Homo sapiens: one gene and its partners. The protein of the gene in region 1 interacts with the protein of each later gene in a pairwise test. Each region holds a gene or a part of one and is shown on either strand. Other genes may lie near its edges. The genes, in order: FGF12, ZNF79 and RP9.

Region 1 (10,290 bases):
GATCTAGACTAGCAGCATCAACACCTTCTGGGAACTTGTAGAAAAGTAAACTCAAAAGCCCGGGCTAACCCTGGGTTCACTGAATCAGAAACCCTAGGGGTGGGGCCCAGTGATCTGTGTTTTTGTACACACTTAAGTTGGAAAACTGGTCAGAAAGTTGTCCTTACGATTCTGACATAAACAATGCAATGTTTCCTGGACCCAGCCAACAACGTCAACATCCCTGTTAAAATAGTCAGGTTCTTTCTTCTGAAGAAATTAGACTTCATTGTAAGCCAGATAATGGGAAAAAAATAGTAAAACTATGATTTAAAAAATCAGTATAGGAATCAATTGATGTCACTGCCACTCAGTTTTTATTGCATAATTTAAAACGAGTATATCTTAACTACATTGTTTTAAACTGCATACCACAGCTGCATGGCATTCTCTGGTTCCAAACAGATAAAAATGAGCAAAATAAAACTAGGTAAGATGAAGAGGAATCTTAGGGATTTTAAGGAAAGAATCCAGCCCCATACAGAAGCAGAGGAAGTAGTAAGCCTAAGGGTCAAATGCTAACAACAAGAATAACAACAGTAGCAGCTGTAATTATTAAGTACTAATTTTAAGCTTGGTTCTTTATATATATTTTCCTCGTTTGTCTCATTAACCTAGAAAGAGCGTCATTGTACAAATTAGGAAGCAAGGATACAGAAATATATCTTACCCAAGTTACAGAGACTAAAAAGTTGTTAGTTGTGTGTTTGATTTCAAGTCTTACGATCTTTCTACCACACCACTGAGCTGCCCAGGTAAACAGAACAGTTATTCAATGTGAGGGTTAGAAAAAGAAGCTGCAACCCAATGCTTAATTAAGCCCCTAGGGGTGGAAGCCAACTTAAGGCACATAAGAGCAGTGGGTTCTTTCTTGAACCCACCTGATAACAGGCAGGAAGGCCCAGTGATTCCTCAAGTCTGTATCTTATTGGCCCAGGGCTTGAGTGAGACTAAGCCTGCAGAGATTGGGTATTCTGAAGGTTAATAAAATCTGTACATACACAGTGGGACTAGTTTTTCAGTAACAAAGGAAGGTTGATTGGCTTATAAGACTATACTAAAGTATGCCTTGGGTGTTAAGTAGTGGTTAAGCTCATAGACTCTGAAGCCAGTCTGCAACTTACTAGCTGTGTGACCTGGGCAAATTACTTAACATCTCTATGCTTGACTTTTCTCATCCCTGAAATAGGGATGACAATAGTGCCTGCCTCATTGGGTTTTTATGAGGCTTAAGTGAGTCAATATATGTAAAGTACAGTGCCTAAACATAGTAAAAGCTGCAAAAGCATTATTTCAAAAGACTCAGTTATCTTTCCAAATGTCCTTTCAATGTTTGACATGAATAAAGCATGAAAGCATGAAGAATAAAGAGCTTTTTTAAGTTTAGCTGGATCTGTTTAAGTTTATAACTGAACCCAACACCTATTACAGTTTTTTTCCCCATAAAGCATAGAAAGAAAATCTGCTTTATGGGAAAAAAACTGTAATAAAATATGTGAAAAAGGATAAAACTCCACTTATAATTCAATCGTCATTATCCAAATATTGTCACTTTTTGCATAATACAATCTACTATTTGCCAATGACCAAATTTTACATTATAATTAGTGCATATATCCACATGTACTATTTTTATAATTACCATTATGTCATAAACACTTCTGATTATAACCCATGTTCATAAACATGTTAATGGCTGTTAGATATTTCCCTTTCTTTTATTCTTCGCATAATCAAGAAATTCAGTTTATTAACCATGAAACCCTTAGACCTTGGATAGCTTTCATCTGGTGGTAGAAAATGCTTCTTCTATCTAAAATGATCAGTAGCCAATCAAACATTGGAAGACATAGTTATTGGTTTTTAAATTGTTTGAAGGCAATGAAGGATTGAGTGCAATTGTTTTTTAGTAATATATTACTAATGATTGAGAACTAAAGAAAATCAGACTTCCTATCAATAATGTCAGTAAAACACTCAGCCCTTGGACTGTTTGTCATTATTCTGTTAGTCTTTCTTTTTTTTTTTTTTTTTTTTTTTTAGCAAGAAGGTGCTGGTTAGGGCTGGCAGAGAGAAGAAAACCATATCCACCAAATCAACTTCACATATGACTGTTGTATAAATAAACTCATCTTAATTGTAAAGAGGACACATATGAGGGTGAAGAAAAGACGTTATAAAAACATAATGTACAATCTGCTAAGCAAAAATGCCATCAAGTTCGCCAAAAGAGATAGGAGAGAACAAGCAGCTGATCATAAATCTTTAAACAGAATGTATCCACTGTAGTTCCTATATAAACACTTCACAAATGCTGGTTCTTTCAATCCCAGAAGTGAAAAGAATCTTGCCTCTAATCCACTCTTGTTTTGCAGATGAAGAACAAGGCCATAGAAAGAAAGCCACGAGCTCAAACTGAAGATGGGGCGGGAATTAGGATTCAAATCCAGGTCTCCGGATCCCCAAGACAGCGTCTTTTCCACAAGGCCACTGCAGCCATCCATCAATTTAGACATGAACCTGTTACCTATGTGGTCACAATCATGCCATATACAAACTTTAGCCAAGTAGCACTTTTTTCCTCTTAGTGCTTTCTCACTCAGAATCAAATTAATTCCTCAATAAAGTTATAAATCCAACAACTTCAGTTGCACAATTCACAGCATTAAAAAGCTAGCTCAAACCCACACTGAGTCCTTAAAATTTGATGTGGTAATTATGATCACCCTGTTTATTTTCTGTAGAAGTTAAGCCTAAAGAGGATCAAGAAAGAATACAAACAAGCTTAAAATAACAATTTCTTTGTAACAAGAAAATAAAAATCAATAATGGGCAAACCGAGTTAAAAAAAAAAAAGAGAGAGAGGTTTAGTACACTGAGGTTCATCCATGGAATAGAAGAACGAGAACCTGATCCCAGATCTTCTAGCATTTAATAGATTAGATTAGAATAATCTAAGTAGTCTGTTAGATTAATACATTAGAATATTAGTTATATTTCATTGGAACATGCACCATGTGTATTTTATGCCTCAGTGTATCACCAGAGTATACAATGTCATAATTCCACCAGTGTGCATACTACAGTTAGAAAAGCTCAGCCTTAGAACAGCTAACAAACAGCAGGTTCTAAGGAAATACTGCTTATTGAATCAATCAACCAATGGTCTCATTTTAAAAGACTGGCACTGATTGGTCTGTGCTATTGCTTTAGTTGTCTCCTTCATGTTTACGTTATTGTTATTGAGGGTCTTGCTATATTTGCATAATCGTTTGTTTTTTATGCTGATGCAAATCAAAGCCCATAGTAAAAAAGTACTCATTTCATCTCATGTTAAGTTATTTGTAGGCTTGAAAATAAAGAGTGATTTACATGAAAACCTTTATCTTGATACATAGCAAATATTTCTCTTTTAAATCCCAGAAGAAAGAAGTAAACCAAATTCAATTTTAAATAGTGCTAGAAATGTTGAACATGTTTTGAAATGAAGGAAAAGCCTTTAGATAAAATGTGTAAATAGTCTAATTTTAAATTTTCCAGATTTAAACAATTAGAATGATCATATAATAAATCTTATATAATAGTCTTGTTTGTAGAGTATCTAACCCCAATTTATTATAATATGTGAAAGAGACTAAGGGCAAAAAAAAAAAAAAAAAAGAAAAACAAGAAAAACAACCCAACACATTTTGAAGCAGGAAGCATATCTAGATTTTTCAGTTCCCAAGTATCTGAAAAGAAATTTCCCAAATTACCTGTGTTGAGGTTTGTTCAATCTGTTAGAGTGCTATCAGTACTGGAGGATTCGAGGAAAACCTGTTTCACGTGGGTGATAATTGTAGAAGTGAATGAGGTAGGGAGAGATTGGCATTGCTGCCTCTTCCTGCCTGCTTGGTAAAGGACTCTTTGGTGCATTTAGTTATCTTCTGAACAGCCTCTGAAAGTTTCTGGATTCTTTTTCTGCAGTCTAGTCCCTTTGGGTTGCTTCTCAGGCTAATGGCCAATCCACAAACAAGAAAGAAACAAAAACCTAACCACAGAATGGCAGCATGCCTTTACTTCTATCACGTAGTTTAAAGTCCCACTTTCAATTATGTGTGCTTTTTCAATCATTAGTAATGGGGCTTGTTTCAGGTAAAAAGCCAGGCAGAGTATGCGCTAAAGAAAAAAGAAAAGATCTGTGAAGGGGCAACAGGTGTCCTTTGGGACTTCTGCCTAGGTGCCATCAGCAGCATCGCAGCAGTTAAATACCACGGCCTCCCTGGGTGGGAGTCTCACATTCCCAAAGACAAGGAGACAGAGACTATTTCAAAAAGTAACTGGAGAGATGAGAAAGCTAAAATTAGAACTATTGACATAGATCCTTAAAAAATCCTACCGTGCTCTGCATGCAAGGATGCTAATAAGGAGATGAGGAAGATGATGCTGGGGAAAATGGCATGTCATCTTAGCCTCAAACTCTTGCCATCTATTTTGCATATCTATTTTCAATCCCAAGTCTGTAGTACAGAAATGAAATCTCTCTTCTACACACACTCTCTTAACACTAAAGAGGGTGGTAATAAAAGACAAGGCCCAGGCAGTAGAAGTCCTATAGTGCTCCTGATAAAGAACACATGTATGTGTTATAGTTTCCTAGTAACCATCTTGGAGCTTATCGATGGATTCATAATTGAGGACATACATCATCACCTGAGTGTTTCTTAAATATCTGACTTGCAGGTATTACAGGATGTCTGGTGGTTCTGAGATGTACCCCGATTAAGACCATTGTTAGTGGCCAGAATTTACACAGTTTATGTTTTAAACCCATCCAAGGTGTAATACTTGACTCAATATATCTCCATCCCCAAACCCATAAGATGTAGAGACAAATTCAGGTGTTGGAGACGTTACTATTAAAACTGTAGAATAAGCACACAAGAAATCCCTTTTGGTAAAGTGAAGTTTTTGTGGGAGTTAATGAAGGGTGATTTATTGAGTGTCGTGCAGTATACTTGCTGCTAAAACTACAAAAATGGCAGAGGACCAATTTCTACCATCCAGGATCTCACAGTCTAGTGTAAAGAGAGATACAGCTAAAAATGATGAAAGTCAGATTATAATTCTAAAGAGTTCTAAATACTTTATTAGCATGAGTTTTATTTCATAATCATGATATTATGGTACAGCACTTGGGATGGGTATAAGAATTTTTATTTTGCAGAGAAACAGAGGTAAGATGAGTTGCCTAAGTCATTTAGTCTTTATGATCCTTTGTTTTGTTATCTATAAAATAAAGTTAAAATGCCAAATCACAGGGTTTTAAGGGAGATTGTATATATTAAAAGCCTTTTGAAAAAGTACAAAGTGTTTCACGAACGTTATTTATGGGTGTAAATATGTGACAAATCAGGAAACCCAATATTAAGAGATGCAATAAACCATTATTGGTCAATCAGTAGCACAAAACACCAAACCTAATAAGGTTGGTACTTCAAAAACTTAAAAGCACAAAAGAAAAAGGATAAGGGAATGGCAAGTAGGTTGGCCTCCCCCAGACCTATTACTGAGGGTAACAAGCCTCATAATAACCTAAAGCAAGAAACAGGTTAGGCAGGTAGCTAGTCAGGTGGAATAGCTTTTATAGTAGATACATAGCTTGAGTTCAAATGTTCTCCCACACAATAATTTTGTTTAAATAAACCAAAGGGGAAACAAAAGGCAGGAATTATTGCTGTGGAATGTTAAGTGCCTCTTTGGAGCTCATTAATCACTGTAAGACTTTATATTCTAGCCTCCCGGATAACCTACTAGAACTCTGAAAGATGAATGGAGAAGACACATAAAATGCTAGAAATCAACAGCTCTTGATCCTGTTCATATATCCCTACATTGTAAGCTTTTAGAGGGCAAGTCAATAAACTATTTATACCTCTGTCCCCCACATTTAATAATGTGCCTGGAACAATGTGGCAACTCGGTATTTTAAATTAAATGAACTGGACCCCCTTTGATATTTAAGAATCTTGAGACCCAAAGAGGAAAAGATTTGTCCAAATTTACACCATGACAGGTGGAGTAAGAAACTGTATTTCCTACACTCAGTGACTATACATCATGATTTTACTGAATTATGTTTTACTTATCTCACTATACTGGCTCAGTCTTTTATTATTGTTGTTGTTATTGTTTAACCACAAAATGGCTCTTCTTAAAATCGCTTTCCAGTTCTGATATACTAATGATTGCATAGACATTTCCTTTCTCTGCTGCAGAGTAAATCATCCTGGCTTCAGAGAAATGACTGTTCTATACCTTAAGTGTGTTGGTTCATGGCCCTGACTGAACTCTGATGGCTGGTATGAAATCTAGAACAAAGAATTGAATCTTCCTTGGAAATACATGTGCAGGTCTCTCTTGAGAGAGTGGGTCAAATTACTCCCTTCCATGTTCTGGAATCACACTGATGTTTCTGGGAGCCCTCCTGGTAGCTAAGTTTCCCACACTTCTCCCAACTTACAATCTTCTGGATCCATGAAGTTGGCCTAAAAAAACTAATTAAGGCTATCCAACGCATATAATTCGAATCCCTACTATGCAAACTTAAATATTCTACCTGAGATAGACACTTAGGTGGTTGCTGGAATGTTAAAGGCTCAGATTTTGCCCACGAGAAGGTTAATATATTAGTGAAGATAGAAGAGTGAAATTGTCAAGTTCAGAGATTGCATCTTAGTTTTCTTTCACATTCTCAGAAATAAGCACATTGGGTACATATCAGATGCTCAATAAATATTTGTTTAAATAAAAAGCACAAAAATTACAATGTTGACTGTAAGAAACGCAGTATGTGAGGGACAAACGAGTACTTAGGTCATAGGAATCTCAAAAGGGTTGAACAGAGAGGTATGACAATAGAAAAGGATAAAACTATATTCACTCTGTTTAGAAGTGCCTTGATTTAAGTAGTCAAATATCATCACATTACCATGAGTTAACAGCAGACTTTGTCAGGAGCTTAAAATGAATGTAGAGAATAAATATTTAGGGTAATTGGGGGTTGAAAGTAAGTGATTGGAGGATGAGCAGCAAGGGTATTTAAAAGTAAGTTTGTTTTCTGATCTAACTATGAGTTAGATCACGCAGTTTCTTTTTCATTTCATTTTTGTTGTATCCAAAAACAACCAGAAGACCTAGAACATGATCACATATCCATGAGCCTTCATAATGATTAGACAGATAATATCAAATCTTCTCTACTGAGGTGCCTGGAGTGGTGTCATTCATTCTCAGGTGCAATCAGTTCCCTGAGATCTACACCAGTGCTTCTTAAATGTTAAAGTGCATAGAAATGACCATTAGATTTTGTTGAAATCCAGATTTGATTTGGTAGATGTGGTGTAGGGACTGAGATTCTGCATTTCTAACAAGCTCCCAGGTGATGCAAATGCTGCTGGTCTGTGGACCACCAGCAGTAATGCCCTACATCAGTGGTTAACTCTGGCCATCCATTAGCATCACTTGGGAGCCATTTAAAACTACTTATGCCCAGATCCCACCCCAGAACTAATTAAACTCACATTATTAGGGGTATGGCCTAAGCATCTTTACATTTGAAAAGCTCTACAGGTGTTTCTATAGGTAGTATGCCAGCTTGAGGCTGGAAATCTACCTAGACAAAGAAAAATGTGATATAGGTGGGGGTCAGTGGGAGGTGAGAGTGTGTGTGTGTGTGTGAGAGAGAGAGAGAGAGGAGAGGAGAGGAGAGGAGAGGAAAGGGGAGGGGAGAATAGGGGAGAAAGGAGGGAAGAGGAAAGGAGGGGAGGGGAGGAGAGGAAGGAGGGGAGGGGAGGAGAGGAAGGGAGGGAGGGGGAAGGAAGAAAGGGAGGAAGGGAAAAGGGAGGGAGAAAGGGAGGAAGGGAAAGGGAGGGAAGAGGGAAAGAAGGAAGGAAGAAAGGAAGGAAGGAAGAAAGGAAGGAAGGAAAGAAGGAAGGAAGGAAGGAGGAAAGGAAGGAAAAAGCCTGTTTCCTCACTCCAAATCATGCTTCTCAAACATTAATGTGCATACAAATTGCCTAGGTACTTTGTCAAAATTCTAATTCTGACTCAATAGACCTGGAGTAAATATGGAGATTCTGCAGTTCTAAAAAATTTGTCTGCAAACCACATTTTGACTATCAAGAGTCTAAATCAGTGGTTTCCAAACACTGCTGTACATAGGGACCTCTAAAGGAAACATATATGCTTTTTTCTTCCACCCCAATATTCTAATTTCATTGGTATGCGGTGCCATCTCAGGATGAGTATGTTCAGAAAGTATGTCAGGTGATTCTAGTGTGCAGCAAACTTTGTGAACCACTCCTCTAAATACTAAACATTTTAACTCATTTAAGAATCTCAAGCCCTTAAGATACGCAAGGCACAAATTCCGTCAGAGCTGCTCGGACTGCGTACCAACCCAAATCTTTGAGACAATGTTAAGTACATGGTGCACAAAAATCGCTGAAATTAGATCATGAATTGAACCTCAGGTCAACTGATGTATTTTCCTCTCTTCTTTACCCTGTATGACAGGGAGTGATGCAAAGTTGTAAATAAGGAAGCAAAAATAAATTGATCTTATTTGTAAATAGCTGAAGTTCAACTTTCTGGATGCTGGACAAATGCTCTAAGAAAGGCTGTCAAATGCTAGAGGTAATGTGAAAGTTGTCAAGTGTTGGCGATGGGATTCAAGATTAAACAGGCCATTAGATCTGGGTATGGGATAGAGAACTCTTGAACCCTCAACTGAGTCACGCAATATGACTCTATCTTTAAAGAGTTTCTACTAGAAAAGTATTATATATACATACATTTGAGAATGTCTTCCTAGAATTAGATTTGAATCTGTTGGGGGAAGAAGTTTGTACACGGCAGCATAAAATGTGAAAGATGCACCAATTACAGTATTGCACAAATACACATTTCTCTTAATACACTCTTTTTGGCTGGAATAAAAATTTCAAGTTAGCTACCATCGTTAGCTGTGCCATTTGCACCAACTTAGAAAGTGAGGCCAATGTATAAGTAATTAGCCATTTTTAATCTGATTGCCAAGCAGCTAACACAGCTTCATTAAGAAAGTCCAGGAACTAACATGCATAAAGACTTTCATCATGTTTTTTTTTTTTTTCAGAGGCAATTATGGGACCTCTGCAAAATGACCACAATGTTGGCCTACAGCAAAAGTCTTCGTTGCCTTTGGATCAGTGCTGTGATTCACTATATCATTGCTGTCTGGATTGACATAGAACTTCTGAACTGATTCTTTTCGGATGTATTTCTGAGATTCTTTCTCCTTTCTGAATTCAAAAGACTGAAAGAACAGCTAGAACTCTACTGTTAGCAATATGATCATTAAACCACCTGGAATGCTAAGTGACACGTAGCATGTTTTATGGGCAACGAAGGAAAATAAAAGATTACTGCCGAGAGATATAGCCTCTTTTTATGATTGAACAGGAATTAGTATACACATTGGAGGCAAAACTGTTACCAAGAACCTTTGTCAAATAACTAAATTTAGTGACCAAATACCAGGTGTCATCTAAGCAAGAAAAACTGTTTCATAGTAAAATGATATTCTTTTTCTGTTGTTAACCTTATGTCCCAGAAATACTTAGTCAGCTAGAATATTACAAACCTTTATATGTTAAGGACTGCCTTTTTATTTTAAAATGGAGTATAATAGAGTTAATAATATATGCCTCAAATATACTTATAGACATGGATTCTCTCATATGTGTACATCATTGTCAGACGTGGAGATGCCCATCAATGTATCATAAGAATAATCTGCCTGAACTGAAAATTGCCTGCTAGTCTTAATCCATGTTGATTCAGCTCTTTTTATACTATAAATGCTTGCCTAGGTTCAAATACTTTAAATCTACCAATTAAATACTTAAAACACTTTATTGAACATAGAACTGCTATCATTCAACACTCCAGTTTCATTAATCAGCCCAGAAATAGGTAACTCACCACCATTCCCTGATCCTAAGTACATTACCACAGTGACTGACATTCCTGGTTTAAAAATAAAATCTTGTTTCAAATATAGCTTCCCGAGTTCTGGGTAATGAATATAGTTTCATAAAAGTTGACATCATTTCTTCTGATTTCGCCAGAATTAAATACATCCAGTATGCCTCCTGGATATCTGACCACCATATCACTCAAGGCTCTCACAACCTGGTGGGCGTTTTAAGGAGAAGGAGAAACAGACCT
Region 2 (7,824 bases), on another chromosome or scaffold:
GATGGTGCCACAAATAGCTGACCAGGAGATAACAGGATGATGGCAGCCATTGGTGGACTCTGGTCATCAGGAAATTGAGGCCCAATTGTTGCCTTAGCAACTATGGCTGGGGCAGGGAAAGGCTGGGGTTGAAATTACAAATTCGTCTGACATGCTGAAAAGAAGGGCCAGCAACACAAGGGTAGGGTCCTCCTTATCTCTGAGGCCCCACCCCTCAGAGCTGAGGCAAGGACGGAGCCTTTTTCTTAGCTACAGACATCACACACTAGGCCGGGGACAGTGGCTGTGCCTTCCTGATCACTCAGGAAAAAAGGAATGCCAAGCTTGGGTCTAGGGGTGGTGGCATGGGAGGAGTGTTGAAACAGGCACTTGGAGAACCCGTGCCTGCCCTGGGGGAACATCATTCATTCACTCTTTCAGCATCTGACTACCTACTGTGTGTCAGGCAGTTGTAGACACTGGTGATATGGTGGTGGCAAAGAATACAGCACCTGCTCTAATGGGAATTAGCTTCTGAAGAGAGGCAGACAATAAGAAGTAAAGAAACAAACAAAAGAATTAAACAGGTCACACCTGTCAGCCCAGTGCTTTGGGAGTATTTTTTTTTTTTTAATTAGCCAGGTCTGGCCTGGCGTGGTGGCTCACGCCTATAATCCCAGCACTTTGGGAGGCCGAGGTGGGCAGATCACCTGAGGTCAGGAGTTCGAGACCAGCCTAGCCAACATGGTAAAACCCCGTCTCTACTAAAAATACAAAAACTAGCCGGGTATGGTGGTGCGTGTCTGTAATCCCAGCTACTTGGGAGGCTGAGACAGGAAAATCGCTTGAACCCGGGAGGCGGAGATTGCAGTGAGCCGAGATCCCGCCACTGCACTCCAGCCTAGGCATCAGAGTGAGACTCCATCTCAAAAAAAAAAAAAAATATATATATATATATACACACACACACACACACACATATATATACATATATACACATATATATCTATATATACACATATGTGTGTGTGTGTGTGTGTGTGTATGTATAGGCCAGGTACAGTAGTTTATGCCTGTAATCCCAGCATTTTGGGAGGCCAAGGCGGGCCGATGACCTGAGGTCGGGAGTTCAAGACCAGCCTGACCAACATGGAGAAACTCTGTCTCTACTAAAAGTACAAAAAATTAGCCTGGCATGGTGGCGCATGCCTGTAATCCCAGCTACTTGGGAGGATGAGGCAGGAGAATCGCTTGAACCCAGGAGGCGGAGGTTGTGGCGAGCCAAGATCGTGCCATTGTGCTCCAGCCTGGGCAACAAGAGCGAAACTCTGTCTAAAAAATAAATAAATAAATAAATAATAAAATTAGCCAGGTGTGGTGGTGCAGACCTGGAATCCCAGCTACTCAGAAGGCTGAGGTGGGAGGACTGCTTAAGCTCAGAAGTCCAAGGTTGCAGTGAGCTATATGAGTGGTGTGCCACTGCACTCCAGCCTGGGTGACAGAGCAAGACACTGTGTCTAAATTAAGAAAAAAAAAAAAGTAAACCCAATCTATGTGAACTTATTCAACAGTGGAAAATGCTAAAAGGAAATAAAAAGTCACCATGGGAGCAGCAAGGGCTGTTACTGTACAGGGTACTAAGTGAGGGCCCCTCCTGAGACGTACGCTCAGACATCATGCATGAGAAGCGGCCAGCTGTGTTGAGTGCTGCTGGTCATGGCCCCGCAAGTGCAAAGGTTGTGTGGCAGGACGGAGGCTGGTGTGACCTCTGAAGCCATTAAGAGCCAGTGTGGCTCTGAGCAAAAGGAGAGGCAGGGAGCCGCAGCATGTGCTTGTGGAAGTAAGTAGCTGTCTTGTGGCCTTTCCTATGGCTCGTTTATTTTCTTTCTTTTTTTTTTTGTTTTTTTGTTTTTTTGAGACGGAGTCTCACTTTGTCTCCCAGTGAGCTCTCAGCTCACTGCAACCTCCACCTCCTGGGTTCAAGTGATTGTCCCACCTCAGCCTCCTGAGTAGCTGGGATTACAGGTGTGTGCCACCATGCCCAGCTATTTTTTTAATTTTTAGTCGAGACGGGGTTTCACCATGTTGGCCAGGCTGGTCTCAAACTCCTGACCTCAGGTGATGCACCTGCCTCAGCATTCCAAAGTGCTGGAATTACAGGCGTGAGCCACCACACCCGGCCTTGGCTCATTTTCTCCACAAAGCCATTTCCTCTGAGTCAGTGATTTTCAAACTTTATAGCGTATCAACTACAAGGATTGTCAAAACAAAGGCTGCTAAGCCCTGACCCCAGAATTTGTTTTATAGGTGTGGAGTGGGACCCCTGAATTTGCTTTTCTAACAACTTTTAAGGGGGATGCTGCTGCTGCTGGCCTGGGGATCCCACTTTGAGAACCACCACATTATTAAGGGGACAGGACACTGATTGCTTATGACAGCTGAGAGGCAAGACAAAGGAGAATCTCTTTTTTTTTTTTTTGAGATGGAGTCTTGCTTTGTCGCCCAGGCTGGAATACAGTGGTGCGATCTCGGCTCACTGCGACCTTTGCCTCCGGGTTCAAGTGATTCTCCTGCTCCAGCTCCCTGAGTAGCTGGGATTACAGGTGCGTGCCACCCCGCCCAGCTAATTTTTGTATTTTTAGTGGAGGCGGGGCTTCACCATGTTGGTCAGGCTGGTCTTGAACTCCTGACCTCGTGATCTGTCCACCTCGGCCTCCCAAAGTGCTGTGATTACAGGCGTGAGCCACTGCGACCAGGATGATCTTTCTAAGCAGTGTGTCTGTGCTTCAGGACACACAAGGGCCAAGTTAGGGCAGCCAGGGTCATGACCCTTTTGGCTGCTGTTGGAAGGGGAGGGGTGACACTTGCTCCTGGGTGCTCCCTTATCTCCACATACGCTATATCAGCGGGGTGGGGACAGCCTGAGGCTGGCCAGAGCTTTCTTGGGGGCCCTTCTCCCATCTTCCTTCTGCCACCTCAGGCCTCCTCAACACAGGAGGCCAGACAGAGGGGCAAGTTTGCCTCATTCTGGCCTCCTGGTCCCAGGGATATGAAACACTTCCTCTTCCCTAAGTGTCCTATCCATCCCAGTCTAGTTATGCTTCCTCTCCTCAAGGTAGCAAGATTTCTCTGACAAGAAACTTCTCTCTAGCCACTTGAGCCCAACGCCTCTTCTCAGGAGATGGGATTCAGGACTCTCAAGTGTGGGAGGAGTACATTAGCAACACTGGGAACATTTCCTGATCACGGATTCAATTCTGAAACGACCACGGCAGTGAGTCTAGAGTGAGGCCAGGTATCCCCCAGTGATCCAAAAAGCACTCTGGATGCAGCTTTCCTGAGAGCTGACAGGTCTGGGATACCTCTGCCAGCCTGACAGCCAGCTGGATCCTAGATTCCCGGTATCCATTCACTTCCATCTGGTTTTCTAATCCTGCTGTGGTCAGCAGAATACCACCCCCCAAAGATATACATGTCCTAATCCCCGGAACCTCTGAATATGTTAGGTTACATGACAAAAGGGAATAAAATTGCAAATGGAATTAAGGTTGCTAATCAGCTGGCCTTAACGATTCTCCTCAATTAGCTGGGTGAGCCCAGTGTTAACCATGAGGGTCCTTAAAAGTGGAAGAGGGCTGCGGAGGAGAGAGAACCATACAGAGGGCAGCAATGGACGGACTCTGGCTGAGGTTGCTACTTTGAAGTTGGAAGAAGGGGCTGCGAGTCAAGGATGCAGGCAGCCTCTGGAAGTTGGAAAAGGCAAGAAAAGATTCTCCCCTGGAACCTCCAGAAGGAATGCAGCACTGTCGACACCTTGATTTTAGCCCAGTGAGACCCACTTCAGACTTCTTACAAAACTGTAAGCCCCAAACTACAGCTGCCCAATATAGAGAAGGGCTAGCTCAAAGACATTTGTGAGTGTGGCTTCTCCGATGGAGCCAATCCCATTAAGATTCATAGGAAGACCCACAAAATTAAGAAACTTACACTGGCAAAAATGCCACCGGCTGTGATTGAAAGGGAAAGAGACAAGACAAAATGAAAAGGAGCCTTAGAATCCCCATACTCACTTATTTCCTGGGTAACCCAGTCCCCTCCCCTTAACGACAAAATGCCTATAAAAAGGAGCTGATCATCGAAAAATTGCTTAAGAAGTAATTTCCAAAGGGCTCGAGGGAAAGTCCATTGAAACATCCCCAGCCTGCAGCAGGGAAGCCCTTAAGGAACACAGGATTCAGGAATCTCCTCCCGCAGAAGTGCTGATCAAACACTGCCCCTGAAATGACTGAAGCAGTTCCCGCCGGCCGATAGGTTTTTATACTTTGAGGGTCCCAGGCCACCCACTCACGGCTGTCCTGTTCAGACTGAGGGACTTCTGATTTCCTTTAGTCTTCCCAAACTTTTAGTACGGCTCAAGAGGACCCTGAGAGTGGCTGGTGATTGCCCTGAGTGGAAGGCCAACGAGGGACAGGCGTACCGTGCGCAGAGAGCTGCGGAGAGGAAACCAAGCGCCTAGCGCCAGCGAAGATCGGCGCCCCTGTAAGCCCAGCATTCCCAGAATCCTTCGCGGCTAAATCTCTTCTTTTCCTCGAGGCTCCATTTCGTTGGATTCTGGTGGACTTTAAAGACGTGTGCAACAAAAAAGCACGATGGATAATAGATTCCGGGAGCAAGCACAGGCGGAAGCCTCTCTGGGAAGTACAATCCCTGAGCGTGTGTGTATCATAAACCGGGCTGCAGGAATGAAAAAGACTTTGGCCAGAAACAGAGCCCCGCGGCGACTTCTGGGAAATGGAGTCCGGTGTGGCCGCCGCGGGGCATGTGCGCATGACCGGAAGTGGCGCCAATCAGGCGCGTCCCTCTGGCGCTGGAGCCAGGACCTGGCGTTGGGCGGTACTTGGACAGCGGTTCTTGAGCTCTCGCGGTTGCCGGTAGATTGTTGCCAGTTGCCAGTTGCCAGTCGTTTTTCGGAAAGCTGGCAGCGGCTTTTTCACCGGGTTCTGCTTGAGGCCGAGCCAAAGAGTGGCTGTGACTCGGGAGACGGAGTGGAACACCCGGCTGGGCAGGCCCGGACAGCTCCCGCGACCCAGCACCGCAGGATCAGACCGTGCCTCTGCGGGGAGAGGCTGGAGAGGAAGAGTCCGGCCTGGGAGCCGTCAGAGCAGCCCTGCAGAACGGGGTGGGGGCTGCTGTAGATAGACCCTTACGCCCAGAGAACTGCTGGGAGGCTGTGGCGCGAGGCGGGACTCAAATGCTGGAGGAAGGAGGTGAGGAGTGGTAGAGGGAGCGATTGTCAAGAGATCGGCTGCTGCTTCGTTTGCCCACGACTGCCGCTGTGTGAGCCGAATCAGAACTCTCTTTATCTCTCCTACAGGTAGTTGGAGACAATCATTTTTTCTTTCTTTGCCCATGACACAGCCCCAGGAGATCCTGAGAACATGTGCCCCTACAGTCCTTTTTTGAGTAAAGAATTCGGGGGTCAAAAAAGTTTGAGGACCTCAGACTGCGTGATTTCTGAGTATTGTACCACGTACCCCAGTCTGCCCAGATGGACCAATGACAGTGGAGAGTAGGGAGAAGTGGGTTCCTGGGGACTCCTCTGTCACTTTTCTCCTTCTAGCCCTTCTCGAAGCAGCCAGGAATGCCTGGAAGCCCGGGAAAGTTTGGGGGCAGGCCAGCCCAGTAGGATTGTGAAGTTGTGGAGGACAGGGGAATTTGCAGTTAGAAGGCACAGGTTCTTGTGAAAGCTGTGAGGTACCAGCCAGGTCTCTTAACCTGTATTTCTCCATGGAAGAAAGGACAAAATAATGTTAACTACTTTGTTTACCTCTGAGAATTGTAATTCTCAAATGAAATAACACTTTTGAAAGCACCCTGAATGTGGTACAGAACAAATGTGTAAGCAGGCAACCTCTTTTAAGTCTTAACCACCAACACCTCTGCTGTTCACCCCTAGATCAACTGTATTTGGTCTTTTACTCTACAAGTGCAATTTTACATCCAGAATTTGGTGCTGTCCCCAAGATCAAGAGGTCCTTGTATTTGTTTTTTTTTGTTTGTTTTGTTTTGTTTTTGAGACAGAGTCTCGCTCTGTCGCCGAGGCTGGAGTGCAGTGGCGCAATCTCAGCTCACTGCAACCTCCGCCTCCCAGGTTCAAGCGATTCTCCTGCCTCAGCCTCCTGAGTAGCTGGGACTACAGGTGCCCGACACCAAGTCCAGCTAATTTTTGTATTTTTAGTAGAGACGGGGTTTCACCATGTTGGCCAAGCTGGCCTCAAACTCCTGACCTCAAGTGATCCACTGGCTTCGGCATCCCAAAGTGCTGGGATTACAGGCGTGAGCCACTGCTCCTGGCCAAGAGATCCTTATATTTGGTCTTGCACTTGAAGAGTAGAGAGTGCAATTTCACATCCAGTATTTTGTGTTATCTTCCCCAGACACCTGGGAAAGCAGAGCAGATGGGTCGTCATCTTCCCCATACTGCAAAACAGGAAAGGAAGTGCTGTCAGGTTAGATAACTCTCAGTAACAGAAGGTCTGTCCTAAGATCAGGATCCAGATCTATTTATTTATTTTATTCAGATATCATTCACATACCATAATATTCACCCTTTTAAAGTGAACAATTCAGTGGTTTTTAGTATTTTCACAAAGTCTTGCAACCATCACTATTTAATTCCAGAACATTTTTGTTATCTGAAGAAGAAACCCCATAGCCTGTAGCAGTGACTCCCCAGTCCCTCATTTCTCCACAAGTCACTGGCAACCACTAATCTGCTTTCTGTCACTATGGATTTGCCTAGGACATTTCAAATAAGTGGACTCATAATATGTGACTTTTTTTTTTTTTTTTTTTGAGACGGAGTTTTGCTCTTGTTGCCCAGGCTGGAGTGCGATGGTGCGATCTCAGCTCACCGCAACCTCCGCCTCCCGCGTTCAAGTGATTCTCCTGCCTCAGCCTCCCGAGTAGTTGGGATTACAGGCACCCGCCACCACACCCAGCTAATTTTTTGTATTTTTAGTAGACACAGGGTTTCACTGTGTTGGCCAGGCTGGTCTTGAACGCCTGACCTCAGGCAATCCACCTGCCAATATGTGACCTTTTGTGTCTCGCTTAGCACATCATTTTCAGGGTTCATCCAGGTTATAGCATGCGTCAGTACTTCATCCCTTTTTGTGGTAGAATGATATTCCATTGTATGGAGAGATCACATTTTGTGTATCCATTCTTCAGTGAATTTTTGTGTGTGTGTATGTTTGATTTCTCTTGGGCATATACTTAGAAGTGGAATTACTGCGTCATACAACCCTCTTTGACTTTCACAGGAACTGCTGAACTTTTTCCACTGTGGCGGCATCATTTTCTATTCTCAGCAGTGTATGAGGTTTCCAGTTTCCTTACATCCTCATCAACACTTGTTATTCTCCATCTTGTTTATTATAGTCATGTTAGTAGGTGTGATGTGTTCTCTCATTGTGGTTTTCATTTGCTTTTCCCCAATGACTAATGATGTTCAGTTTCATGTAGGGAGTGGCTATTTGTATCTCTTGCTTGGAGAAATATCTGTTCAAATCTTTTGCCCATTTAAGAATTTAGTAGGGCCAGGCACAGTGGCTCACACCTGTAATCCCAGCACTTTGGGAGGCCTAGGCAAGCAGATTACTTGAGGTCAGGAGTTCGAGACCAGCCTGGCCAACGTGGTGAAACCCCGTCTACTAAAAAAAAAAAAAAAAAAAGTTAGCCGGGCGTGGTGGTGCGTGCCTGTAATCCCAGCTACTTGGGAGGCTGAGGTAGGAGAATCGCTTGAACCTGGGAGGTGGAGGTTGCAGTGAGCCAAGATTGTGC
Region 3 (9,398 bases), on another chromosome or scaffold:
AATCACTGTTCCAAGTTACAAACAAAGATCACTTTAATAAGAATTCCTTTTTTTTGTAAAAGAGCTAATTTGTCATACAAATGTAATTTAATAAGCATGTAGTTAACAGCACACACTTTGGTCAAAGGGCTTCTGGGAATGTATTTTATGTGACCATTCAAGTTCACTGGTGACTTTCTGCTTCACTGATTTTCACTATCTCTGATAAATGTAAATTGACACTCTTGGACTTTACTTACCACTCTGAACTGCTCTAACTTTTGGTTGCCTTTGATAAAGAAAGGGCATTCTTTGTCACCCGTTCGGTGACCATAGCGTTTGCAACGCCAACCTAAAAACGAAAAGAGAAATATTTCTGTAAGATAACAGTTTCACCTACTCAAGATAAAGAATCAGCAGAATATATTCAAGTTTTTCTTCATTAAACTCTAATTCTAAAACAAAATATAATTATGGACAAGCCATGTAAGATCCCAGAAACAGAGGTAAACTAATTGCTTCCCCAAGCATCCTTTAGTCTTATACCTTTAGGAATAATATTCTATCACCAAGTATTTATGAAGCAATCCAATGGAGAATTACTTCAAAAGGTGAATTTTTTTTTTTGAGATGGAGTCCTGCTCTGTCGCTCAGGCTGGAGTGCAGTGGCGTGATCTCAGCTCACTGCAACCTCTGCCTCCTGGGTTCAAGATATTCTTCTATTTCAGCCTCCTGGGTAGCTGGGATTACAGGTGCGTACCACCACACCCAGCTAATTTTTGTATTTTTAGCAGAGATGGGGTTTTGCCATGTTGCCCAGGCTGGTCTTCAACTCCTGACCTCAGGTGATCCGCCCGCCTCAGCCTCCCAAAGTGCTGGGATTACAGGCGTGAGCCACCACGCCCGGCCCAAAAGGTACATTTTTTTTAAAGTGTGTTTCAGTATATTTTTCAGAGTAAATGTTTTCATAAAGTATCTCTGCTTCTCATTTACTATTTTAGACACTATAAAAGCTTCTTTCTCAGGTTGAGTCTGTTCAAAACTCTCACTTTTAAGTAAATAAAATCACAAGTTCTCTTAGAATATTAATGGTGGCTGGGCACAGTGGCTCCTACCTGTAATCCTAGCACTTTGGGAGGCAGAGGCGGGTAGATCGCTTGAGGCCAGGAGTTCGAGACTAGCTTAGGCAACATGGTGAAACCCTATCTCTACAAAAGTACAAAAAAATTAGCTAAGCCTGGTGGCGCATGCCTGTAGTCCCAGCTATCTCAGAGGCTGATGTGAGATCACCTGATTCTGGGAGGTTGAGGCTGCAGTAAGTTGTGATCACACCACTGCACTCCAGCCCGGGTGACAGAGTGAGACCCTGTTTTCCTGACCCTGGTAGAAGGTTGTTTAATGTGTGGAAAAGGTAAAACAGAGGGTCTCTGGCCAGGGAGACCAGGGAGACATCAGGTAGGTCTGAAGGAAGCTGCTGCAATAGCCACAAAGGGTCACACGAATGAATGAAAAGCAGATGGACACATTTCCAGACTCCCTCCACTCGGCTCCCAGAACACTCATAGTATGGCTTTCCCTCCACGTGGGAGCCTTCTCTGGGAAAATATAACCCACCCAAAGAAGAAAAACCGATAGATACTGAACTCTGAGGCACGTTGTCTTTGCTTTTAACAAATAATCAAGGCAATGAAGCATTCCCATCAAAATTCTCAAGGAAACTGATTTTTAAATTAGAATTCAATATCCTGGTAGTTAAAAATCTGTTAAAGACGATTCCAGAAAAGTAAAGGTCTTAACATTTTTATCTTCTATAAACCCATTTTGAAGGTAACAGCCATAGGATTTGTTACACCATAAGGAGAGAATATGATAATAAAGAAGACTCAAGACACAGGAAAATGGGTGATCCAACACGGGAGAGAGGCTAAGGGGACCTGCAGAAAGATGGTGTCTTAGTCAGCTCGGGCTGACATAACAAAATGCCGTATTCTGGGTGGCCTAAACAACAGAAACTGGTTTTCTCATTCATTCTGTAGGTTGGAAATCTGAGATCAGGGTCCCAGCAAGGTGGGTTTGTGGTGAGAGCTTTCTTCCTGGCTTAAGATGACAGCCCTCTTTCTTCTTCACATGGCACGGTGGTGGGGGGTGGGGTGGATGCTTCCTTATCTAGAAGATGGAGAACGTGCCTTGGCTGTAAGAGGGCTGTGATGAGAACAAGTTAAATAAAAGAAGTAAACACTCTTTGTAAATTGAGGCATGTAAGTTGCATGGATTAGGGAAACTCTCCCACACTCACACTGCATAACTTTGACTTCTTTCCCCAGTGGCATCCAAAGTCCTTTAGTTGGTGCATGAGCCAGAAATTCCCTGGCGTGTTCATTGCCTGGTACATCTGGTATGCAATCTTCTGGCTTAGTCTCATCTTCCTAAAAAAGGGAACAGGTATAAACAGCATGGCAAGAGCGCTGGGATTCTCTCCTGCTCCCCTTGGAGCCACCCTTGCCTGGCTTTTTCCTGGGCTTCCGGTGCCAACATCATCTTAGTTACCCCTCAAAACTAGAAAAAAAGACAAGTTACACCTGATTGAAAAAACAGGAAACAAATGTACCAGAAGAACTATACCAAAAACAATGTAGCTGTTCTTAGAGAAAAGTTACTGGTGAAGCAGAAAAATCTGTCCTTATATAGCAATGACTGGGGAGCTCCAAATAAGATTCTGAGATTAAAAAAAAAAAGTTTCACTACCTCAAAATATAGAATTAAAGTAAACCAGGCTTCCTGGAATAATAGAAATGGCCTGTTATGCTAGAATAGTTTATTATACCCTGAAGGCCCTGTCATGTTTTACAGTCACACACATGCTATATCTCTGATGTACATTTTTACCACTCAATAACTGCATTTACAATTAATGTGTTTTCAAACTTTTGGATTTTTTTCAAGTTTCTATGAATATTAAATTTACAATAGACTCATGTTTTTAAAGAATATTTCTTCGCTGAGAGTTATGAAACAGCAAGTTTTCTTGGCCGTGGCCTGCCACTCTAAGTCTCCCTCGTGCACACACACCCTGGCACCTTGGCCAGGGAGCTGCAGGAGGGATGCCTGTACCAGGGAGCGGGACTGGATAGCTGTCAGATCTCCTCAGAGTTTACTGCTCTCTGAGCTGCTGAGCTCAAGAAACCAGCAGAGGATGGACCGAGGGGCTGAGCCGGGTGAGGCCGACAAGGAAAAGGAGCTTAGAGATGCCATCCCCAGCAAGAGAGAAGAGGGGCATGGCCAAGGAATCCACGTGGGCCTGCACTGGTTCTTCAGGGAAGGGAAACATGGCTGATGAAATTTCTGCAAAGGCAGAGGCTTGTGACAAAACTAAAAATTATGACCCCTCATTCATCTGCAGGAAAAGAAACAGGCTTTTGGTAAAAGGAGATTTAACATCATGCAATTATTTTTCATAACAAGTTACTGAGTCTACAAGTATGTCTTGTGGAATAACCAAGAGTACAAACTTCACACTAACCTTGATAAGCCCAGGAGGAGGTTTTTCGTAACTGGAAAACAAAAAACAAAACCTTATCAACCATGTTAATGTAAACATAACACATCAAGTTACTGCAAAAAAGGGGCTATAGGATTTTTAATCAGAGATTTTAGCAACAATAAGCTTTTATCACTGGTTTGCAGACAAGCAATCACCTGAGAAGAGCAGAATGCTTCTCCTCCCTGTGCTGAGCGGCACCTGCCATCTAAGACTGGCCAGGCCTTCCTTATTTCCATCCAGGGACTGAACCCAGAGGAGACCCAGAATGCTGAGCACGCAAGTCTCCAGATGGGACAGGCAGCAAGATGGGAAGGAAATTCTGAAGGCGAGGTGTTTGTGCACTCAAAGAGCAACTCTCAGGCTCCTAAAGCAATTTGTACCTCCTCCCAAAAGAGTAATATGCAAATATTTTTAGCTCAGGTCTGTCCCTTGACCCTTTAAACCTTTAGGGAAGTATTTTTTTTTTTTTTGAGACAGGGTCTTGTCGTGTTGCCTAGGCTGGTCTCAAACCCCTGGCCTCAAGCAATCCTCCCACCTCAGCCTCCTGAGTAGCTGGGACTACAGTTGTGTACCATGGCACCATGACACCTGGCTCTCTTATTTTAATACTTCAGAATGGCTGCAACATAGAGAAACACTTAATGATTTAATGTTTTCTTCATTCGGACTCTCGTCTTATGCATAGTTTAAGGGACCCTTTAGAAGACAATGAATATTGGAAAAGGGAGTCAAGAATAGACAAAGGGAAAAGTGAAAAAATTTTCATTTGGCCAGGCGTGGTGGCTCGCGCCTGTAATCCCAGCACTTTGGGAGGCTGAGGCGGGCAGATCACTTGAGGTCAGGAATTCGAGACTAGCTTGGCCAACATGGTGAAACCCCGTCTCTACTAAAAATACAAAAATTAGCTGGGCGTGGTGGCGGGTGCCTGTAATCCCAGCTACTCAGGAGGCTGAGGCAGAAGAATTGCTTGAACCTGGGAGGCAGAAGTTGCAGTGAGCTGAGATCGCACCATTGCACTCCAGCCTGGGAGACAGAGTGAGACTCTGTCTTAAAAAAAAAAAAAAAAATTCATTCTCCCCTTCTATAAGATGTGGGAGAAAGCAACTTGATGGACAATGGATGAGAAATACTACTAATCCCAGATCTGTTCCCTCAAGATTAAATAGTAAACAACTGTGTATTAACAGGATTAGCTTTGTAAGTGTGGTACAGTGTTTTCCCAAAGTAGGTGCTTAAAATATTTCTAACAAAAAGCTGTGGCATGACATAGGCCTAATGGAGCAAAAACAATGGAAATCTGCACAACTTGTGAAGATGATAGTTTATCTGTAGCCATTCATTAGAAACATTAATGCTATACCTTATGCATAGAGACTAGAAGGAGCTTGACAGTAAAGTCTATAAATCCAAAAATCCAATAAATGAATCCTTTTGAGCCACAAGCATTATACAAAAAATATATGGCCAATCGAATTGAGATCCAAATTCTCAAAAAAAAGTAACTGTTCTTGCCAAGATGAAAATGAGTGTGATGCAATTGCACATTTGGAAATATAATATTATCAGCAATGGCATTCCCAAAGTCCATTTTACAAGTGGTTTCACAAGTTTAAAGAAGGGTGGTTCATGTTGTTTCCCGGGGCTGAACAATTCATTAATGTAGTATACTCAAAAATATATTTCTGAAAGTAGTATTTAACTACTAAATACAGATTAGAAAACTGAAGTATGTTCACGCACAGTTTAGGTTCTACAGTGTGACAGTTAAGAGGTATGCATTTATCTTTGCAGTCACTGTCACCCAAGCTGGAGTGCAGTGGCGTGATCACAGCTCACTGCAGCCTTGAACTCCTGGGTTCAAGCAATCCTCCTGTCTTGGCCTCCCAAAGTACTGGGATTGTATACATGATCCACCGTGTCCAGCTGCAGTTAATTCTCAAGATAAAAAAAAGTTGATTGAGATGCATTATTTTGTGCCATCTGAAAAGCCTTACTTAGTCATTCAGACTGTACTAACTTTCTCTGAGTAGGAAGAAGACCAGTTATGTCTGAGACACGCTGTCTTCTCAAGTGTGTACAGAGTAAGAAATCTTTTGTTAAGTGTTTCAAATTACTCTTTCTGTTGACTGTTGAGATGGGTTTTCTTTGAGAAGAGTCCCTAATGCAAGTGTACTCCATTCCACACAATTGTTCCTGCAGCTGCATCCAAGGGGCTGCGTGGCAGAGGTGAAACTGCCACATACACCCAGAAGGTCCACTCTGTTATGCCTGGCAGCCCAGGAGCTATTAAGTGACAGAGAGTGTTGGAGCAGGTGGAAGCCTCGGATGCCCTCAGGGGCCTGGCAGGCAGGGTCACCGAGGGAAAACTGTGGTGGAGACTCAGGAGACTCCATCACATCAGGGATGAAAAGATTTGAATTCAATTTATAAAAGAGCACTGTGGGGCTTCCCATTTAACATGGCCAACTGACCAACATGCTTATCTATCTCCTTCCCCAGATGCTTTAAAAATGACAGTGAAAAAATAAAAAGGCCATAAAGATATCCCAAAAGGAGGCAACATCAGAGGAAGTTTTCAACAAATTTGGGAAAGTGGAAATAGCAATGGATTTCCTGGGGTGGAAGAAGTAACACTTTTCAGAAGATGAGGCTTCCTTCCTATAGCCAGGAGGCTGCCTGCCCAACACTTGAAGGAGGCTGCAGGGTTAGCCTCTCCAATTCAGCAACACTGGCAGCCAGGCAGAGATCCCTGGCCCCCAGGCAGAGGACTCAAGACCCTTCTCTAGAGGAACTTAGGAGCCCCAGAAAAAAATCTCCAACTACTGACATTTGGAAGTCTCTTGATAAAAAGGGTACCCTGCAGCATGAGCGCCCTATCATGAAGCTATCTGATCAACAAACAACACCTTCTCTCTTTTTTCTCTCCCACACACAGCTGCCCTTGACAAGAGCTGTATAGCGCCTACTCTTAAATGAGTTGAGGCCAGAGCAGCGGCTCATGCCTGTAATCCCAGCACTTTGGGAGGCTTAAGTGAGAGGATTCCTTGAAGCCAGGAGTTCGCGACCAGCCTGGGCAACATAGTAAGATTCCATCTCTAAAAAAAAAAGTGTAAAAAAACTAGCTAGGTGTCATGGTGTGCACCTGCAGTCCCAGCTACTCTGTAGGCTGATTCAGGGGGGATCACTTGAGCCCAGGAAGTCGAGGCTGTAGTGAGTTATAATCGTGCCACTGTGCTCCAGCCTGGGTGACAGAACGAGAGCTTGTCTCTAAAAAACACAAAACAAAACAAAATATGGTTGAGATTCAAGAATACCCAGATATTAGAGAAAAAAAAATTACTAAATGTAAGACAGCAATCAAAATAAAAAGCAAACAAGAAATAGAGGCAATGTAGGGAACAAAAGACAACAAAAAAGAAAAACGAGTGAGTATCCTCATAGATGAGTGAAGATATTTCACTTATGAAACAAGAACAGGATAATATAAAAAACAACTTGCAGAATGAGAAAAAGCTTTTTGATTTAGAAATATAACAAATATGTTTAGTAGAGAAAAAGATACATCTACAAAGTACAATGAAAATACAAAGACAGAAGAGATAGAGCAACAGAAAATCAACAGAAGGAAAAAACAAAATTGGGGAGAGGAAATAAGACATAAATTTATATATGTAGTTAATGCATTCATGACATGTCAAGAAAAAAAGAGTCAACTGCACAAACTGGGGAACAACACACACTGGGGCCCACTTGAGGGTGGAGGGCAGGCGGAGGGTGAGCATCAGAAAAAATAACTCTTGGGTACTAGGCTTTGTACCTGGGTGATGAAATAATCTGTACAACAAATCCCCATGACATGAGTTTACCTGTATAACAAACCTACACAGGTACCCCTAAACCTAAAATAAAAGTTAAAAAAAAAAAAGTCAATTGGAAAAGACTAACATTATCATGAAACTTCAGGATGGCAGCAATAAAGAATAGTTTCTTAACGTTTAAGGGTGAGGTGAACTTGAACAGGTAACTTATAAAAGAAAGGGACTCAGAATGGCATCAAACTCCTTAGCAGTTTTGGAAGCTAGAAGATAGTGATGTACTATCGCCAAAACTGAGTGAAAATTGTTGTTACTATTTTCCTCCTGCCTCAGCCTCTGGAGTAGCTGGGACTACAGGTCCATATCATTGTGCCTGGCTAATTTTTAAATTTTTTGTAGAGACAGGGTCTCACATTGTTGCCCAGGCTGGTCTTGAACTCTTGGCTTCAAATGATTCTCCTGCCTTGGCCTCCCAAAGTGTTGGGATTACAGGTGTGAGCCAGCATGCCCAGCCCCAAAATGATTTTTGACCTGTAATTTTATACCTAGTCAAATTATGTACCAAGTTTTAGGATAGAATAAAGACATCTTCAGATATGCAAGGTGTCAAAAACTTTACCTCCAATGCACTCTTTCATAGGAAGTTGCAGAATTGGCTTTGGTAAAATGTGAGAGTAAACTTATAAAGAGGAAGACATGGAATCCAGGAATGAGATGCAAGATAGGAGAGTGGGAAAGGATGCCCTAGGACCACTGCTGGACCAGGTCTAAAAAGTAACCAGTGTACTGAAGGACAACAGATTGAAGAGTCTAGGTAAAAAATGAACTGACTACCTGATATGTAGTTATGTGTGGAAAAAGTACTATTGGGGCTCAGAAAATGATACCCCAAAGTATGGTGCTTTGGCATGCTGAGTACTTTGAACTAAATGAGATTAGAGAAGGCCTCAGAAGACAGTTGCTCTCTGACCTTCTCTTGCCCTCCTGTCTCCTGCCCTTCTTTCTTCCCCAAAGCAGTCAGAGAGGCCAGAATTCCTCTTTTCCACAAGTGGGCCATAAAAACTAGAACAAGTCTCCCACAAAGCAAGCCAGAAGCCCTACAAATAACTTTAATTTTTTTTTTAAAGAAGATAAAATCTCAGTGGAACTTTTAAAAAAATATTTAAAATAATAATAATAAACTCCTACAAATATTACCCTAACATTTCCTTGCCTTTCTGTGTCAGAGGTGGCCATAAAAACATGAGCTGACCTACCTTGTTTGATAGATCAGGACCCCTCATTCCAGAAAGGGTCCTGCCCCATATCTGGGAGGAAGTAATCGTACACAGAGAGGCCTGAAAAATCTGAATAGACAGGGCTTGCTGGATTTTCCCTATGACCACTGTATTATACCCTTTTTTGTCTAATCATATTTCTACACTGCTATACATTCTTCATCCAAACTAAGCATAAAAATAGTTTCCTCTGGGTCTCTGGGTCTTCCTTTGTCAACGTTCCCATGTCACATAAAACTTTGATTAAATACATTTGTTATGCTTTTTTCTTGTTGACCTATTTTTTGTTATAGGAGTATCTGCTGTGACTCCTATGATAGGTAAGGAAAGATACCTTTTCACCTTTATGGTACTCAGATTTTGGAGACATTGGGGGAAAAACAGCAGTAGAAAATTAAGTAAGTGAAAAACAAAGGCTCTTATTAACTACTTAAAAGTTAACAATAGTATAGAAAGCAAAATAAATCAGAGTACACTACCTGGCTCAAAGTGAGTAATAATTCATAGTTATATTGCTGTTTTTTTTTTGTTTGTTTGTTTTTGAGACAGGATATCACTCTGTTGCCCAGGCTGGAGTCCTGGAGTGCAGCCATGGCTTACTGCAGCCTCAACCTCCCAGGCTCAAGCAGATCTTCCCACTTCAGCCTCCCAAGTAGCTGGAACCACAGGCATGTACCACCATGCCTGGTTAATTTCTTTTTTCCTTCTTTCTTGCAGAGATAAGGTCTATAAATGCTGCCCAGGCTGGTCTAGAACTTCTGGCCTCAAGCGATCTTCCCACCTCTA

What was found.
Region 2: the proteins of FGF12 (region 1) and ZNF79 interact in binary tests that used the Homo sapiens proteins (3 or more experiments, as listed by UniProt).
Region 3: the proteins of FGF12 (region 1) and RP9 interact in binary tests that used the Homo sapiens proteins (3 or more experiments, as listed by UniProt).

Annotation. Positions count from the first base shown.
Region 1 is NC_000003.12:192,716,106-192,726,395, forward strand, and holds part of FGF12 (fibroblast growth factor 12), read right to left. Parts: intron 1-10,290. UniProt on the Homo sapiens protein: Involved in nervous system development and function. Involved in the positive regulation of voltage-gated sodium channel activity. Promotes neuronal excitability by elevating the voltage dependence of neuronal sodium channel SCN8A fast inactivation.
Region 2 is NC_000009.12:127,419,558-127,427,381, forward strand, and holds the start of ZNF79 (zinc finger protein 79), read left to right. Parts: upstream 1-4,824; 5' UTR 4,825-5,230; coding exon 5,231-5,246; exon of another isoform or gene 5,247-5,353; intron 5,354-7,824. UniProt on the Homo sapiens protein: May be involved in transcriptional regulation.
Region 3 is NC_000007.14:33,097,032-33,106,429, forward strand, and holds part of RP9 (retinitis pigmentosa 9 protein), read right to left. Parts: intron 3,871-9,398; exon of another isoform or gene 3,726-3,870; coding exon of another isoform or gene 3,676-3,725; intron 3,531-3,675; coding exon 3,500-3,530; intron 2,406-3,499; coding exon 2,276-2,405; intron 332-2,275; coding exon 240-331; intron 1-239. UniProt on the Homo sapiens protein: Is thought to be a target protein for the PIM1 kinase. May play some roles in B-cell proliferation in association with PIM1.